Regions from separate parts of the Homo sapiens genome. Here region 1 is linked to region 2. The links come from fine-mapping of genetic effects on plasma protein levels. A gene starts in region 2. The other region holds a variant in brackets. All regions are shown on one strand. Distances are between the middles of the regions.

Region 1 (9,488 bases), 85 kb after region 2:
ATAGGTTCATATTGAGATCCATTGAAGGCCCTCCCGGACTGACGAAGGCGTGACCTCAGGCCCACGGCATCCAAGAACACGAAGCATGAGGGACAGAAGAGGGCCCCTCGGCACCTGCCTGGCACAAGTGCAGTGGGCCGGAGGAGGTGACTCGGACAAACTGTCATACAGCCTTAAGCAAAGAATGCCGATGGAGGGCCCTTGGCCTGCAGATGCACCCTCCTGGATGAATAAGCCTGCGGCTGATGGAAATTCAGAGTGAGGCATTATCACTGGAAATGAGAAAGGATCCGAGCAGGGCTGGCCTCTCGCTTCCCAGTGGCGGCCCAGTTCTTCCATATGTGAAAGAATCAGTAAGAAGAAATCCAGCCTCAGCAGCCACTCCGAGCGCAGCCGTGGGTTTGTTCCCTGCTCCAACAGAGTATTTTGCTCGGGTGTCCTGCAGTGGTGTTGAAGCTCTGGGGCGGGACTGGCTGGGAGGAGGGCCCAGGGCCACCCACGGCCACAGAGGACAGTGCCCCAAAGGAGAGCCTCAGGTGTCACGACTGCCATGCCATCAAAAACTGCCGGAAATGGGAAGTTTTCAGGATGACCCACCAAGTGCTTTTCCCAAGGGTCTGCGCTCTGAGTTGGAACCCTCTTGCCTGCATTCCATCCTGTCTGCAACACTGCAGGCGTGTCCCGAAGAGCTCCTGAATGACGAGACAAAACGCATTTTCCTTGACCGTTTAAACCCCATGTTTTCAAAGCAAACAATAGAATTCAAAAAAATGCTTAAAAGTACCTCAGATGGTCTGCAGATAACACTGGGGTTACTGGCTCTGCAACATTTTGAATTAGCAAATTCATTATGCCATAGTTAAGGTACAAGCAGAACAATACAAGTAGATTAATTTTAAGAGTTGTCTTAGAATGATTAAGGTGTGGTTTGTACGACCTGGCAGACTTAGTTGAGTTTAAATTCAAAACTGGTGGATGCGGAAGGAAATTTTTTAGCATATGTTAAATTGTGCTTTAAAAGACATATAAAGAATTGGGAAACATTTCAGGAGACGATCATAGCCTGTATAAATATCAGATTAGAACATACGGATTTACGATGAAGTTCTGTCTTCAACACCCAGCATTGTCTAAAGGGCTACTGTCCCAAATCCTGTGTGTCCCTTCAGCTTGTCTGATCACCCAACGGAAGTGGATACTTGTAAAGTCTACACCGCTGTACTTGGCGTTAAATCTTGCTGAATTTGTGGTAAGCTATTATCATTTCTACATTTTGTAGAATGATTTTGGTCTGCAGCAAAATTCTATTTCACTTCTTACACCCCTTTCCTTCCACTTGAAATGCAATTTAGACAGAGGCCCTGTGGTGAAAGTTGCAATATTAAGCTTACCTTTAGAAGATCCCTTCTCAAACTCAGAACCCTAGCAGCGTTACCTTAAAAATGAGCTCGAGAGGCCGGGCGCGGTGGCTCACACCTGTAATCCCAGCACTTTGGGAGGCTGAGGCAGGCAGATCACAAGGTCAGGAGATCGACACCATCCTGGCTAACACGGTGAAACCCCGTCTCTACTAAAAAAAAATACAAAAAATTAGCCGGGCGTGGTGGGGGCGCCTGCAGTCCCAGCTACTCGGGAGGCTGAGGCAGGAGAATGGCGTGAACCCATAAGGTGGAGCTTGCCGTGAGCCGAGATGGCGCCACCGTACTCCAGCCTGGGCGACAGAGCGAGACTGTCTCAAAAAAAAAAATGAGCTCGAGAAAAAAGTAGCTCAGTTACAGAGAAGCAAATCAAGTTATTTCCCAGATAAAAAGTTTCCCAGATTCTAGGAATTGCAGTATCTTGTACCCTAAAATTTTTCCAGGTGACTCCTTTTGTTGTCTGTTGATAACTTTAATAAAGGTCATTTAAGGGCATAAGGTTTTAAAGACTCCCAAAGTGAGACTTAACCATTTTCGGGATTAGCGATTGCATATATCAGTTTATGTTGTGTGCTTAATTACTATGCCATGTGCTATTTTAGTGTTTGGGGAAAATGAAAAATAAAATTTGTTCTTTGGATTAATAAATATGTCTTAATAAAAAATACAGTGAATGACAATGAAAATGCAACACATCAACATTTGTGGGTATGTATAAAGCAGGGTGAGAGGGAAATTCATAGAACTAAATGCATAAATTAGATGATAAGAAAATTATCAAGCCAATAATTTAAGCTCCCACTTGAAGTA[C/T]GTAGAAAATAAGAGAAAAAAAAACCACTCAAAATAAGAAGGAAGGAAATAATGACTATAATAGCAGAAATCAATGAAATTTAAAACAGAAAAACAATAAAGAAAACCAATGAAACAAAGAGCTGGTTCTTTAAAAAGATCTATAAAATTCACAAACATCTACCAAGAGTGACAAAGCAAAAAGGAGAGAATTATAGATTAGAAATATTAGGCATGACACAGAAGGTATCACTAAAGACCTTGTAGATGTTGAAAGGATAATAAATGAATACTACAAACAACTCTAAACACATACATTTGGCAACTTAAATGAAATAGACCACTTTCTTGAAAAGCATAAACTACCACAACTTATCAATATAAAACAAATAATGCAAATAGCCCCACATAAGATCTCCAGGCTCAGATGGTTTCACTGGAAAATTCTGCCCAAAGTTTAAAGAATAATAGATACCAATTCTGTATATCCTCTTCCAGAGAAAAGAAAGACAGCGGAATACTTCTCAAGTGATTTTATTTATTTATCTCATTTATTATTTTTACCATTATCAGAATAATCACATTTATTTACTTCCTGTCTTATTCCACCATTTGTATGTAAATTCCATGGGTAAGGGCCTGCTCTTACGTCCCACACCTCTAGGTCTACAGAGCCTAGAGACAAAGGTGTGAGGAAAGCACTCCGTGACCCTCCCTGGCCAGGCCACATGAGTTCTGGATCTGAATTTAGAGCCACAGACTTTAAGCACTAAAATAAACCTGAGGTTTTCCAGAGGCGTTTAACTTTCTCCTTTAATAGACAAGAATGCACCTAAGAATGGAGAGTGGCTTCCTGCAGTAACCCAGCCACTCAATAGAGACTAAGCCCACAATGACCTGAGTCAAAAAGTCTGCAACCTTTTCCCCCCAAATCCCACCTTCTCCTTCTCTCAACTCATTTTTAAAAGCTAGTATTACCTTGATACCAAAAACAAAGACAGTTAAAAAAAACAAAACAAAACAGGAACTACAGACCAATATCCCTCATAAATATAGACACAGAATTAAGCAATATGTAAAAAGAACTATATGCTATGAGCAAGTGCAGTTTATTCCTGGAAAGCAAGGCTTGTTCCATATGTGAAAATCAATGTAACCTACCATATTAACATGATGAAGAAGAGAATCACATAATCGTATCAATTGATGCAGAAAAATCATTTGACAAAATGCATGATAAAAACTCTGAGAAATCCCAGGTGTGGTGGCTCACACCTGTAATCCCAGCACTTTGGGAGGTGAGGCGGGTAGATCACATCAGGCCAGGAGTTTGAGACCTGCCTGGCCAACATGGCGATACCCTGTCTCTACTAAAAATACAAAAAAATTAGCCAGGTGTGGTGATGCATGCTAGCTACTTGGGAGGCTGAGGCATGAGAATCACTTGCACTTGGGAGGTGGAGGTTGCACTGAGCTGAGATTGAGCCACTGCACTCCAGCCTGGGTGACAGAGTGAGACTCTGTCTGAAAAAAATAAAATAAAAATAAAAACTCTGAGAAAAATAACAATAGAGAGGAACTTCCTCAATTTGATAAAGAGCTTTTACAAAACCTCCAACACTTAACATTATACTTAATGGTCAAAGAAAGAATGCTTTTCTCCTAAGAAAGGGAATAAGGCAAAGATATATGCTCTTACTACTCTAATTCAATACAGCACAGGAAGTTTTAGCCAGTTCAGTAAAGCATTTAAAAAAAGGCATATTGATTGGAAAGGAAGAAATAAAACTGTTCACTTTTGCAGATAACATGATGGCTATGTGGAAAATCCAAAGAAATCTATTTTAAAACACCAAAATCAACAACTCCTAGAACTAGTAAGTGAATTCAGCAAGGCTACAGGATACGACATAAATATACAAAAAAATCAAGTGTACTTTGAGTGATGAACGCTTGGATATAAAAATTAAAAATACAATAAGTACCATTTATAATTGCTCAGAAAAGGAAATACTCATTTCAAATTCTAACAAAACATTCATAAGACTTGAATGCTAAACATTAGAAATTCTGATGAAAGAAATCAAAGATCTAAACAAATGATGAGACACATCATGTTCTTCAATTTGGAGACTCAAAATAGCAAAGATGTTAATTCTCCCCAAACTCATATATACAATTCCTACAAAAATTTCAGCAATATTTCTTGTAGATGAATACAAGATTATTTTAAAATTGTCTTGGAGATGCAAAGGAACTAAAATAGCTAAAACATTTTTGAAAAAGAATTACCAAGTTGGAAGAATCAATCTATCCCATTACAAGACTTATTGTGTAGCTATTGTAATCAACAGCACGTGATATTGGTAGAGTGAAAGATACACAGACAAATTAAACAGAACAGAGAACTCAGACCCACATAAATATAACTGACAGGTTATTGACAAAAGCATAAAAGTAATTCAGTGTGGGGAAAGGAAGTTTTTTCAACAAATATTGCTGGAGCATTTGCATATCCATAAGCAAAGTTGAATGGTGACATGAACCTAACACTCCATACATGAATTAATTCAAAATAGACCACGGACTTAAATGTAAAACTACAAATCTTTTAGAAAAATACATTAAAACCCTTCAGGACCTAGGGCCAGGCAAAGAATATTTTAAACTTTACAACAAAAGCATCATCAATAAAACCAAAAATAGATAAACCGGACGCTATCAAAATTAAAGAAAAAAATTTTGTTCTGTGAATGACCTTGCTAAGAGTATGAAAAAACAAACTACCAACTAGGACAAAATGTTTTGAAAGCATATAGCAGACAAAGGATTAGTATCTAAATTACATAAAGAACTCTTAAAACTCAATAGCAAAACAAACAAACAGAAAATGGGCAAATGATATGAACACGCATTTCACCAAAAAGCACAGACAGATGTCAAATAAGCACAAGGAAGGACATTTAACATCATTTGCTATTATGAAAATAAAAATTAAAATTATGATGAGCTATTACTATACACATATGACAATGGTTAAATAAAAAATAGTGACAACTCCAAATGCTAGTGAGGATGAAGGGAAACTCTTTCCCTTATTTACTATTAATGGGAATGTAAAATGGTACAGCCACTCTGGAAAAAAGTTAGGCAATTAAAAAAAAATGAAACTGGCAGTGCCATACAACTCAGCAACTGCATCCTTGGGCATTTGTCCCAGAGAAATGAAGACTTGTGTTCACACAAAAACCTGCACATAAATGTTTAGAGCAAGTTTATTTGTAGTGGCCCCAACTGGAAACAACCTACATGTCCTTTAGTTCGTGAACAATTAAACAGTCTGTGGTACATCCATAGCATAGAATACTATTCAGCAATAAAAAGGAATACACTATTGATATGCACAACATCCTGGATGAATCTTCAGAGAATTACAGAGTGAAAAAAGCCAATGCCAAAAGGATACACAATGCATAATTCTGTTGATATAATATTCTTGACATGACAAAACTATAGAAATGGAGAACAGATTCAGTGGTTGTCAGAGATGAAGGAGGGCCTGGGGGCAGGAGGGAAGTGGGTGTAGCTAGAAAAGGAAAACTTGAGGGGGCTTTTACAGTGAAGGCAATGCATTTTGACTGCATCAATGCTAATATCCTGGTTGTGATATTGCAATATAGCTTTGCAAGATATTATTGTTGGGAGAAACTGAGTAACTGGAATGCAGATCTGTGTAAATAATATTCTTAAAATTGTTTGTGAATCTGCAATTATCTTAAAATTAAAATTTTAATTAACAATACATATGTTCTACCTCTATCCACTGAATATTCTAGGAGACAAAAATCTAGTAGCAACAAGCATTCCTGTTGTCTACATTGTGGACTCTAAATGTTATCTCCATCTAAAAGGAACTAGAGATCCTTAGAGAAATGGTTGGTTCTCTATCTGGGGCAGGAAATGTACCAGATGAGCCTGCAGCATCTTATTATAAACAGATGCCAAGAAGCCATCAAGGACTACTGGGCACATGTCTAAAGGGTCCAGACACCAACGTGAAGAGGCTCTCACTGGCCAGATATGGGATAATTTGAGCTGTAAAAATGATAATAACTGCAATGTTTTGAAACACATCAAATATTTGAAAAACTCAAGACTTTATAATGATATTAAGAAAGCTCATTAGGCTGGATGTGGTGGCTCACACCTGTAATCCCAGCACTTTGGGAGGCCAAGGCTGGAGGATTGCTTGAGGCCAGGAGTTTGAGACCAGACTGGGCAACATGGTGAGACTTTGACTCTACAAAAAATAAAAAAGTCAGCTGGGCATGGTGGCACATGCCTGTAATACCAGCTACTTGGCTGAGGTGGGAGGATAATTTGAGCCCAAAACTTCAAGGCTGCAGTGAGCAATAATTGCGCCACTGCACTCCAGCCTGGGCAACAGATCCAGACCCTGTCTCTAAAAAAAAAAAAGAGCCCCATTTGTTTCCTTTGGAGGATGCTAGGGAACCAACTGATTGCTATAATAATTGGTAAATGAAGGGAAAGAATCTTGATTCTTGATCCTCCATTTCCTGCACAAACAATACTGAAGATTCAGGTGACGAGGGGAAGCTGCTGCACATACAGTCACCTCTGCCCTAACTTCCATGCTTTGGCTGTTCAGTCTATCCTCAGCGCTTCAGGAGATGCTCCTGTTAAACAAAAGTCAGATCATGTGACTCCTCCACTCAAACCCGCCAATGGCATCCTGGTTCACTCATAACATGGACCCAAGCCCTTCCCTGAGCTAAAGGGTCAACACCATCTGTCCCCACTGCCTCCTAACATGGGCCCCTCCCTCACTCTCATCAGCCACCCTGGCCTCTTGCTCTTTCTCACACTCAGCACGTGCGGGCCCCAGGGCCTGTGTACTTGCAGAGCCTTTCCCAGATTCCCCTGCGGCTATGCCTTCCTCACTTACCCAGTGGTTGGCTCAAGGGTATCCTTATTGGAGAGGATTCCTGTTTTGTGTATCCACTTGTGGTCCCAAACCTCACATGGTTCCATCTGATTCTACAGGCCATGTGCTTCTCCACTAAGCTGCACTGTGTGAGGGACTAAGTGGAGGGCAAAAAGTCAAGGGGCTAAGTGGAGGGCAAAAAGAAGAAAAAGACATAGTCCCTGCCCTCCACAATCTTCAATTTATAGCAGAAAGCCGGGAACACACACACACACACACAGCCTGCTCAAAGTGAGTTTGCCCTGGAACATGTGGGAAGCTGGCCTAGTTCTGCACAAGAAGGGAACCCTGTATAAATGGACTTAGCGGAGAAGGTCATCCGAGAGGAAATGAGCCCTGTGCACTGAGCTCTGAAGAGCAGGAGGGCTGAGGTGGTGTGGGACTGAAAGTAAGATTATCTGGAATTATCTGGGTGGGTCCAATCTAATCCCAGAAGCCCTTAAAAGCAAAGAACTTAGCCTGGAAGCAGAAGACAGTTGCATGCATGTACTACAGTTTGGTTATGCACTTCCCAGTAGATGGACATTTGGGTTGCTTCTAGTTTGGGGCTGCTGTAAACACTTTTGTGCAAGGCTTTTTGTGGACATGTGTTTTCATTTCTGTAGATGCTGTGGTTAAGTGGAAGAGGTATGTATAAATGTTTTAAGAAACTTGCAAACAGTTTTCCAAAATGGTTGTATCACTTTACACCATACGGTAGTGTATGAGAGTTGCTGTTGCATTAGTAGTGATTAGCCTGTTTCATTTTAGCAATTCTGGTAGGTCAGGGGGCGATTTTGATCTGCACTTCCTTGATGATTAATGATGCTGGGCATCTTCTAATGTGCTGATCTGCCATATATCTTATTTTGTAAATTGTCAGTTCAAAGCTTTTATACATTTTAAAATTTGGATATTAGTCTTTTTATTATTGAATTGTAGCAACTTTTAGAAAATATATTCTTTTTTTTTTTTTTTTTTTTTATAGTATTTATTGATCATTCTTGGGTGTTTCTCGGAGAGGGGGATGTGGCAGGGTCATAGGATAATAGTGGAGAGAAGGTCAGCAGATAAACACGTGAACAAAGGACTCTGGTTTTCCTAGGCAGAGGTCCCTGCGGCCTTCTGCAGTGTTTGTGTCCCTGGGTACTTGAGATTAGGGAGTGGTGATGACTCTTAACGAGCATGCTGCCTTCAAGCATCTGTTTAACAAAGCACATCTTGCACCGCCCTTAATACATTTAACCCTGAGTTGACACAGCACATGTTTCAGAGAGCAGGAGGTTGGGGGTAAGGTTATAGATTAACAGCATCCCAAGGCAGAAGAGTTTTTCTTAGTACAGAACAAACTGGAGTCTCCTATGTCTACTTCTTTCTACACAGACACAGTAACAATCTGTTCTCTCTTTCTTTTCTCCACATTTCCCCCTTTTTTTTCTACAAAACCGCCATCGTCATCATGGCCCATTCTCGATGGTCGCTGTCTCTTCGGAGCTGTTGGGTACACCTCCCAGATGGGGCGGCCGGGCAGAGGCACTCCTCACTTCCCAGACGGGGCAGCCGGGCAGAGGTGCTCCTCCGGGCAGAGGCGCCCCTCACCTCCCAGACGGGGCGGCCGGGCAGAGGCGCCCCCCACATCCCAGACGGGGTGGCCGGGCAGAGGCGCTCCTCACCTCCCAGACGGGGCGGCCGGGCAGAGGCGCTCCTCCAGGCAGAGGTGCCCCTCACCTCCCAGACCGGGTGGTCGGGCAGAGGCGCCCCCCACCTCCCAGGAGGGGCGGCCGGGCAGAGGCGCCCCCCCCACCTCCCAGACGGGGCGGCCCGGCAGAGGTGCCCACCACCTCCCAGACGTGGCGGCCGGGCAGAGGCACTCCTCACCTCCTGGACAGGGCGGCCGGGCAGAGGTGCTCCTCACTTCCCAGACGGGGCGGCCAGACAGAGGCGCTCCTCACATCCCAGATGATGGGCAGCCAGGCAGAGATGCTCCTCACTTCCTAGATGGGGTGGCGGCCGGGCAGAGGCACTCCTCACTTCCCAGACGGGGTGGCCGGGCAGAGGCGCTCCTCACATCCCAGACAATGAGTGGCCAGGCAGAGACGCTCCTCACTTCCTAGATGGGGTGGCGGCCGGGAAGAGGCTGTAATCTTAGCACTTTGGGAGGCAAGGCAGGTGGCTGGGAGGTAGAGGTTGTAGCGAGCTGAGATCACGCCACTGCACTCCAGCCTGGGCAACATTGAGCATTGAGTGAGCATGACTCCGTCTGCAATCCCAGCACCTCGGGAGGCCGAGGCAGGCAG
Region 2 (9,272 bases):
AAGATAAGGAGCTCCATTTACCACTGCTACATATGGATAGGATTCCTCAGAGTCCAGGCCTCCGTTCTCCTTGACATACTGGAAGGCCCTAGCCATGAAGCCACCATTGCAGCCCTGATTGCCTTGAGGACGCGAACAGTCCACCAGATTCTGCTCGCTCAGTGAGACAAGTTTCCCAGTTTTCCGGAACATCTGTCCTTCAAGAGCACCAGTCGCACTAAAAGCCCAACAAGAACCACACTGTTTCTAAAAAGGGAGAAAAAAAAAGCTGTAAATTTACAAGACCAATACAAATACAGTACCCCATAATTGAATTACCTTAATATTCTTTAAAAAAAAAAAAAACCCATCGCCACACTTTGGGAGGCCGAGGCGGGCAGATCACTTGAGGAGAGGAGTTTGAAATCCGCCTGGCCAACATGGTGAAACCCTGTCGCTACTAAAAATACACAAAAATTAGCTGGGCATGGTGGTGAGCACTTGCAATCCCAGCTACTCGGGAGGTGGAGGCAGGAGAATCTCTTGAACCCAGGAGGCAGAGGTTGCAGTGAGACGAGATCACGCCATTGCAATCCAGCCTGGGCAACAAGAGCTAAACTCCGTCTCAAACAAGCAAACAAAAAAAACACCAAAAACCAAAAATACAAAAAACCCATCACCATATGTTGTGCCACCATCTACCACAGCAATGACACCAATTCCTTCTTGGCTTTCCTGTGGAGACAGGGTCTGAATCTGACGCTGTCTCACCTGATTCTTCACTGGCGTCACGTAGCCTTTCTTTCTCCAATCCACAGATTTGGGAAGATCAAGAAACAGAGGCTCACGGAACACTTTCCCCTTCCTGAATTTCTGGTTTCGAAAGCAACCCATCATCTGCCTGAATTCTTCATTGGTCTTCAAGGAGAAGTAAATAAAATGTTAAAAGCAAGACTATTTTGGTGAAGAACTGAGAAGCAGCACAGAGTTCAGCAATCCTTGCCACACTCACCATGTCACCAAAAGCATTCATGGCCATTGTGAAGCCATGTTTCCCTTGGCTGTATTCCCCATTGTGCAGTTCAATCATTTTCATATTCTTTTCCCACACTGCTCTCCTCCATCCTTCTTCATTCTAGAGGCAAACATATAGCTGGTGGACTTTATGTCTACTTACCCAACCCATGTTCACCAAGCCGATTTGCGGGCAGAAATGGAAGAGAAACCATGGCCAGGGATGGGTTGATACTTCTCTGGGAGCTGTTCTCCAAGCCAAGACACAATGGAGATATATGCCCATATTGCACCTATAATGGGTGCTGTTAGGTTATTGCCTGGTAAGGTCTGGTGTCTAGAAGCTACTCTCTGGCTATCAACTCCCAACAGCGAGGACCATTCTCTCCAGAGTCCCTCTGGACAGTTTCAGATGTTACCAACCGCGCCATATAATCTTCTGTGTGTTGCCTTCCACTGGTACCACTTTGTATCCAAATTTTGGTCAAATTTTGGAACAGCGGAGGCTATTCCCAAGCAAAAGGCAGCCAGGACGAGCGAAAGATTCATGTTTCAAAACCTAGAAAGAGAAAAGAAATGAGTATCTGATTAGACCAATCCTAAAAAGCCATCTTACAGCCCCCGTGGAATAGAAATATTTCAATTATTCTCCCTAGCATTTCCCCAAGGACTGTGGAAGAGGCTGAAACAGGCCAAGTGGAGGTATTTGATGGGCCCACCAAAATTAAAAGCAGCCTGCAGAGTTGGAGGCGTTGAAACAGCATATGCGATAATTTAGGGTATGAGAAGGGTGTGAAAGATACCTGACGGGTGAGAAGCTTAAGGCAACAACTAGAAAACTAGGAAAGAGTTGGTCCAGGTTTTGCACCAATTGTACTGAGGTCATCCAGGCAAAACCTCACTAATGAAGACGTACCATCCCAAGTAGATGCAAGCGGATCCCCAAGGAACACCACCTCACACCTTCTTGGCTGATACACAGCAGGAGATGAGCTATGTCTTCCAACCTCTCCTTTTGGAATAAAACCTTTCGGGAATCCCTTTCCAGGAGACACTGGGAAGGAGAGCACCCACTATTCCCGCCGTCCCACACTTGGGTCTGTGCTACTCGCTCCCCTAAACCGGGGCAGGGTCACAAGGCCGCGCCGCTGGAAGCCAGGGGCCCCAGGGCCAGGGCCCGGACCGAGGCAGGCAGCTCCCGGAGCTCCGGGCGGGCCAGGACCGGGGCCGCACCGCCTGCTCTCGCCCTCTGCACGCGCCGCCGCGCCCCGAGAATGTTTGCGGCGGTGCAGGGAGCGGGGGCTCCGCGGCCAGGCTGGGGGCATGAAGCCGCCCGGTCCGGTCCGGCTTCAGCCCACAGGATGACTGACCTGCCCCGCCCGGGCCCTCCCAGTGGTGCCGGCGCCTCCCTGGGGTCTCCAACCGCCCTCCCCCGTTCCCCACCTCGAGGCTGGCAGAGCTCCGGGCAGAAGCTCTCACTCCCAGAAGCGCCCGCCTCCTCTCAGTGTCCCTAAAGGGGGGTTCCCTCCTCCAGTCCCCCTTCGCCCTGTCCCTCGGTCTGGTCGGGGGCGCTCACCAGCAGCCGTCGCAGCTGCGCAGGCACCCTCAGCAAACAAGCCTCTGAGATTACAGACGTCCGCGGTCTGGTGCAGGTTCGCCCGCCTCGGGATTTAAGTTTCCAGGCGGCCTTCCCCGCCCCCACCGCCTTCCCGCGCTGCGATTGGCTGTGCCGGCCACTGGGCGGGGCCCCGGGCGCTTAGAGCCCGCGCGTGACGCAGCCCAGTCCCAACCCGTCTCAGGTCTGGGCGCGCCTACCTCAATACACCCTGGCTGCGGGAAGCTGGGCCGGGCGCCCGGGGGCTGCGCGGAGGAGGGGGAGGCGCCTCCCTCAAGGGCTCAGATCTACTGACTATCCCGACTTACTGCGCTGAGCGGGTGGTTTACAGCGAGCTCTGTGTGGTATTTCAGTCCCTACTTTAACTTAGTCCTAGAGTTTTTGGTGAAAATCTGCAGGGCCGGGAGCCAGGGTACTCTCGTTCAGTGGCTCCTGTTTAGTCCACGGCAAAGGTGGGACGGAGTGGAAGAACGCACAGCCCCCAGCAGAAGCATTACCTTCCACTTAAGGGTGGGTGCATCAGGGCTTTAGAAGAATCTGGTAAGGAAAGGCACTCCCAAAACACGGGATGGATGGTCGAGACCGGACACCAGGAGGGACGGGACTAGCTGATAGGGTGTCCAGAGACCGCGGAGCGTTTTGTGGTGCGTCCTTCCCAGTCTGTTGCATTCAGGAATTCTTCCTTCTCCCATGTCTTTCAATACCAAAAAAAAAAAAAAAAAAAAAAAAAAGAGTTACAGAAATATTTGGTTAATAAAAAAGAGAAAAGCGTTGAGAATGGTGAAATAAATTGCTTTAAAAATTTTTCTTTTGTAGAAATGGAGTTTGGCTAAGTTTCCTTAGGCTGCTCTTGAATTCCTGGCCTCAAGCGATCCTCCCCTCTCAGCCTCCCAAAAGTGGTGGGATTACAGGCGTGAGCCACTACGCCCAGTCTGAGAGTGGTGGAAATTGCTTTTACTTACCTACTCTCTGCTTATGGGTTACAACGTCTCTTCCTCAGTATTCAAAGTGTGCTTCTTTTGAGATTTAATAAATTTACTTTAAAAATGTTTAATACCGGCCGGGCGCGGTGGCTTACACCTGTAATCCCAGCACTTTGGGAGGCCGAGGCGGGCGGATCACGAGGTCATGATATCGAGACCATCCTGGCCAACATGGTGAAACCCTGTCTCTACTAAAAATGCAAAAATTAGCTGGGCGTGGTGGCGGGCGCCTGTAGTCCCAGCTACTCAGGAGGCTGAGGCAGGAGAATTGCTTGAACCCGAGAGGCGGAGGTTGCAGTGAGCTGAGATCGTGCCACTGCACTCCAGACTGGTGACAGAGCGAAACTCTGTCTCAAAAAATAAAAATAAAAATAAAAATATATAATATCAGGGTTGAGGTGATGCAGTTTGAGGAACTGCTCTTTATGGAGAAATATATGTAGCTAAAGATTTAAGGAAATCATTAATAATTCAGAAACGTTTCTAATTCTTTTTAAAGTTATATAAAAAAATCCATTATAAAAAATATGTTTTAGAAAATAAACGTCCCTTGTGCCCTCTCCATAACCCTTTTCTAGGCATATCTTTTTTTGTTTTTACAAAAATGAAGTTATAATGCATATTGATTAATAAACTCTTAAAGATTAAATTGAATAATATCCACAGTTTTTACTTGTTAATTTGAAAATTTGTGAAATCAAGTTTAGCCTAAAGCTGCCTCCCCATGTGATTTAAGTTTGGCCTAAAGGTTTCTCTGTACATAGCGAATTGTAATCTAAATGGAGGTGTAAACAGACTGTAGCCTGCTCTTGTGCCTATCCCCGAATTTCTGTAAATCAAAGAGGTTCAGTTGTTCAAACCATGTTCAAATAAGGCAAACATGGAGCTGTATCCAATCCTGCAGTTTCTGTGCCTCACTTGCCCTTTTCTGTCTATAAATCTTCCCCCATGTGGCTGCACTGGAGTCTCTCTGAGCCTACTCTGGCACTGGAGGCTGCCAGATTCACGAATTGTTTTTTGCTCAATTAAATTCTCTTAAATTTAATTTGGCTATGGATTTTCTTTTAACAAATTAAAAACAATTAAACTGACAACTTTTCAGAAGCACCATCAGGCAAATACATCTTTTTAAAAATCAATTTATTAATAATTATATGTCCTTCCTTTAAATAAATAGCAGCTTTTCCCTCTCAAATACAACTAGGGGCCAAAGCTGTCAGGTGGTTATATAAAAAATACAAAAGTATATTGTATTGCAGGCCAAGGTAGGTGGATCTCCTGAGCCTGGGAGTTTGAGACCAGCCTGGGCAACATGGCGAAATCACACCTCTACCAAAAATACAAAACAAACAAACAAAAATTAGCCAGGCATGGTGATGCATGCCTGTAGTCCCAACTACTTGGGAGACTGAGGTTGTAGTGAGCGGAGCAGAGCATGCGCCACTGCACTCCAACCTGGGTGACAGAGCGAGATGCCGTCCCAAAAAAAAAAAAAAAAAAAAAAAAGCATCTTGTACTTGTACTGCAAATTTGCCGTCTCAAAAAAAAAAAAAAAGCATCTTGTACTGCAAATAGCTGTTTTTTTTCTTTTTTAAAAATTAATCATTGTGTTGAACACAATCATCATTCACATGTGGAAATAAATGAAGACCACCACCTAAGAACAAACAGAGGCCATATATTCAGAACTTGCTATAACAAAGGAGATAATTCAAAGACGAGGGAGAAGAAAAGCTTTAGGGGAAAAAGGGGGCAACTTCAGCTATGTCCTCTTTGCAGAGTGTCGTCATGGAGAAGCTGAAGGAGGGATAACTAGAGATGGAGCGTCTTATGTGATTTGTTTGTGGAGTATATTTGGTTTTTCTGGTTTGTCCTGGGTTGGAAGCAGAGGCAAAAATGAGGAAGCTGTCAGCCACTGAGTAAGTCCTGACTGTTCTGAGTTGGTCTCTGCAGATATTATGCTTCATTTCTTCTGTGGGTCAGAGTTCTATTGCCATATACTATGGCCATTGTCTATTTGTTTACTCAGTCTATCACAAGAAAGCTAAGTTATTCTAACACGTGGGTTTTACAGTTGCCCTTGGGCCACAGCTCCCTAAGATTGTAGGGTGGAGAAACCTGCCAGGCCATTAAGATCTGTGCCTTAAGCAATAGCCTGACAGCAGATGAGTGGCAGGTGCTGCCCTGAAGAATGGCATCCCCTTTGTTTTTTGGAATGTGAGACAAAAGTAGTGGAGAAAACATAGACCCTTTTCAAACCAAGTGTGCCCCAAATCTAAAATTATACCAGAAATATGTAAATGCAGAAGAAATATGGGAGAAAGCCAATAAGCAAGAGGGTGGAAGACGTTATTGCTCCAACTTAGGACACCTATTTATATCTATTTATACACATCTGTAAAAAAATGCATTACAGAAATGTGGTATTACTAGCCAGGACAGTTGTATTTAAATATTTGTTTCTTTCCCTACTCTTCTATTCCTATTTCTTTGCAAAATAATTTTGATGAGTGATAATTTTTAGAACAGTCACATGTTAGTGAAGCAACCAAGCCTTGGTTATGCCTTTAATAAAATGGAGTTGGCAGAACTTCCTGATTCCTATTTAAAACGCAGTGCCTGTGAAAGTATATTCTCACGTGCATCTGTGTAGCTTTCTTTTACTCACTATTAAAAGAGGATATAGGCCAGCCATGGTGGCTCACGTCTGTAATCCTAGCACTTTGGGAGGCTGAAGTGGGTGGATTACTTGAGGTCAGGAGTTTGAAACAAGCCTGGCCAACATAGTGAAACCCTGTCTCTACTAAAAATACAAAAAAAGTTAGGCAGGTGTGGTGGTGCATGCCTGTAGTCCCAGCTACTTGGGAGGCTGAGGCAGGAGAATCGCGGAGAGGTGGAGGTTGCAGTGAGCCGAGATTGCGCCATTGCACTCTAGCCTGGGCAACAGAGTGAGACTCTGTCTCAAAAATAAATAAATAAATAAAAGAGGATGTGATTCTTTACCCAGTCTCCGGAAATTTTAAACCATAGGGGAACTGGCAAACTTAGTGTGGTGGCATTCAAGACCCTGACATCACTTAACACCTCTCCCCAGTATAATAACCCCCTCCGATTTGTTTAAATTCACTGAGCCAAGAATTACTCTTAAGAAGCATTATCCAGCAAACTGTCCACTTGCAAAATGGTTTGTCACCATTGATAATCGTATAGCAAACAGCCTGTTTATGATTTGAGGTTCATATAAAACCACTTATGAAATAACTACTTTTCTTGGTTACTGTAACTGTGCTTTTCCTGTAGAGTTAAACTATCAGCCAATTCATCAAGCACGTAAATCAATCAATGAGAATTCAGCTCTTACTCGGTACCAGTTCTCCTCTTCTGGTGTAGCATGAGCATTCACTTCCACATTCTTAGCTTTCCTAACAGCTTTCTGAGGTTCAGCCTTTCCATATTTAAATATGTGGTTCACTACAGTAATTTCAGTTCTATAGCAAATTGAACAGGACAGATATATTTAAATGGAACTATGGTGAAGCATCTTTGTATAGCAAGTAACAAGGAAACCAATTCACAAGAGAAATGGTGGAATTTCTCCCCTCCTCTAAAACAGTAATCCACAAACTCTCAGCCAAATCTGAAAAATTCTTCAAACCTCAAAAAGTCCTTTCAAGAAACAAGGTGTATTCGTTTCCTGTGTCTGCTATAACAAATCCCCACAAACTTGGTGGCTTGAAACAGGAGTCCTTTATTCCCTCACAGTTATGGAGGCCAGAAGTCCTAAACAGGCATCATTGGGCTAAAGACCAGGTGTGATAGGGCTCCCTCCCTTCCTCCCTCCTGAGGTTCTAGGGGAGAATCTGTGCCTTGCCTGTCCCAGCACTGGTGGTTGCTCGCATTCCTTGACTTGTGGCCACATCACTCTAATCTCTGTGACTACATTGCTATCTCTTCTGTCTGTGTCTAATCTCCCTCCCTCTTATAAAGACCCTGTGATTGCATTTAGGGCTTATTCAGGTAACCCAGGATAACCGTTCCATTTCAGAACTATTCATGGAATCACATTTACAAAGTCTTTGCTGTTTAAGATAACAGCTTCAGGGGCCAGGAATTAAGACCTGTTGTCAGTGGGGGCTATAAACATCCTGGTACACGTGGCAAAATTAAAATCAGTTTCTTGACAATGCTGATAAAAACTTTGTGTTTATTATAACTTGAGGCTGGCCAGGCGCGATGGCTCATGCCTGTAATCCCAACACTTTGGGAGGCTGACGCAGGCAGATCACTTGAGGTCAGGAGTTTGAGACCAGCCTGGCCAACATGGTGAAAACCCATCTCTACTCAAAACACAAAAATTAGCTGGGCTTAGTGGCGGGCGCCTGTAATCCCAGCTACTTGGGAGGCTGAGGTAGGAGGATTGCTTGAACCCTGGAGGCGGAGGTTGCAGTGAGCCGAGATCATGCCACTGCACTCCAGCCTGGGTAACAGAGTGAGACTCTGTCTCAAAAAATAAAATAAAATTAAATTAAAAAATAAAAATAAAATAAAATAAAATAAAATAACTTAAGGCTGGCTTGACTAAGAGAGTTGGACCCTACACTCCCTGGGAACTTCCCACACTGTGACTTTTTTGCTCCATCTCAGCCTCAGATCCCTGCCTCATGTACCTGAGTACTGGCAACATTTTCTGCCTTGTGTTTCCCTTGCAATGCTTGACACGGCCTTTTAAGTTTCAAGACCCTGGCCAGGCCTAGTGATTGGCTCATGTCTCTAATCCCAGCGCTTTGGAAGGCGGAGGCGGGAGGATTGCTTGAGCTCAGGAGTTCGAGATCAGCCTGGGCAACATAGGGAGAACTTGTCTCTACAAAAAATAAATAAAAATAGCCCAAGCTTGGCGGTGCGTGCGTATAGTCCCACCAACTCAGGAGGCTGAAGTGGGAGGATGGCTTGAGCCCAGGAGGTTGAGGGTGCAGTGAGCTATGACTGTACCACTGCACTCCAGCCTGGGCAACAGAGGGAGACCCTGTCTCAAAAAACAAAAAAGTTTCAAGATCCCCACACAGCAGCTTTTACAACCCCTCCTTATTCTTTTCACAGCCAGCTGTCCCATGGTCTCTGCATAAAAAAGCATTGCTTACCCACCCTTTTCCTGAGACACTTCTGGTTTCGGCTTTGAGCATCTCCTTGTTGCAATATCTTGTATTAATAAAGTCTTTCCTTACTAATGTAGGAACTTGCATTTTTTCCCCTTGACACCCCGTGTCACTTTAGTGAGTGGTGAAGACAGAGAAGGCTCTGTGCTGTGAGAGGCTCAGCTTGCAGATGCACCTGTCCTGGGGTTGCTCCAGAGGAAGAGCGTCTCTATCTGTGACTTCCTGGGTTTCCAATAGCTAAAGAATTCTTAGGTGTGAGCACTGTTCTGAGCATTTCACACGTGCTCCTGAGGTCATCTTCCCAACAACCCTATGATGCTCGTTCTCAAACACCAGCTTTATCAGAATCACCCAGAGGCTCCTGAAAGCTCAGGTTGCTGAACATATCCCCCAGTTTCTGATTCAGTAGGTCTGGGACGGGGTTCCAGAATTTGCTTTCTAAAAACTTGCCAAGGTGGGCTGGGCGCAGTGACTCATGCCTGTAATCCCAGCACTTTGGGAGCCCGAGGTGGGCGGATCACTGAGGTC

Which allele goes with the higher level. Positions count from the first base shown, and alleles are read on the strand shown. Strength reflects both the effect of a copy and how common the allele is.
With allele T in place of C in region 1, the plasma level of the protein whose gene starts at base 2,641 in region 2 is higher (weak association).

The links. A credible set is the group of variants that fine-mapping cannot tell apart. PIP is the posterior inclusion probability: the model's chance that the variant is causal. Protein levels are from antibody-based Olink assays in UK Biobank. Linkage for the fine-mapping came from a reference panel and not from the study's own genotypes, which makes the PIPs less certain.
Region 1: its variant is the best candidate, but not a certain one, in a credible set for the plasma level of the CTSV protein (UK Biobank, PIP 0.53).

The regions. Positions count from the first base shown.
Region 1 is chr9:97,121,574-97,131,061 of GRCh38, forward strand. LOC105376166 (a long non-coding RNA gene) reads right to left here and starts at 9,106. Exons shown (of 3, transcript XR_930154.3): 1 at 9,070-9,106; 2 at 7,174-7,309; 3 at 2,726-6,904. It also overlaps the pseudogene FAM220CP. The variant C/T (reference allele first, on the strand shown) is at 2,229.
Region 2 is chr9:97,036,502-97,045,773 of GRCh38, forward strand. It overlaps CTSV (cathepsin V), which reads right to left and starts at 2,641. Exons shown (of 8, transcript NM_001333.4): 1 at 2,570-2,641; 2 at 1,417-1,552; 3 at 992-1,114; 4 at 751-897; 5 at 22-246. The coding sequence starts at 1,542. RefSeq lists a silencer at 2,676-2,985.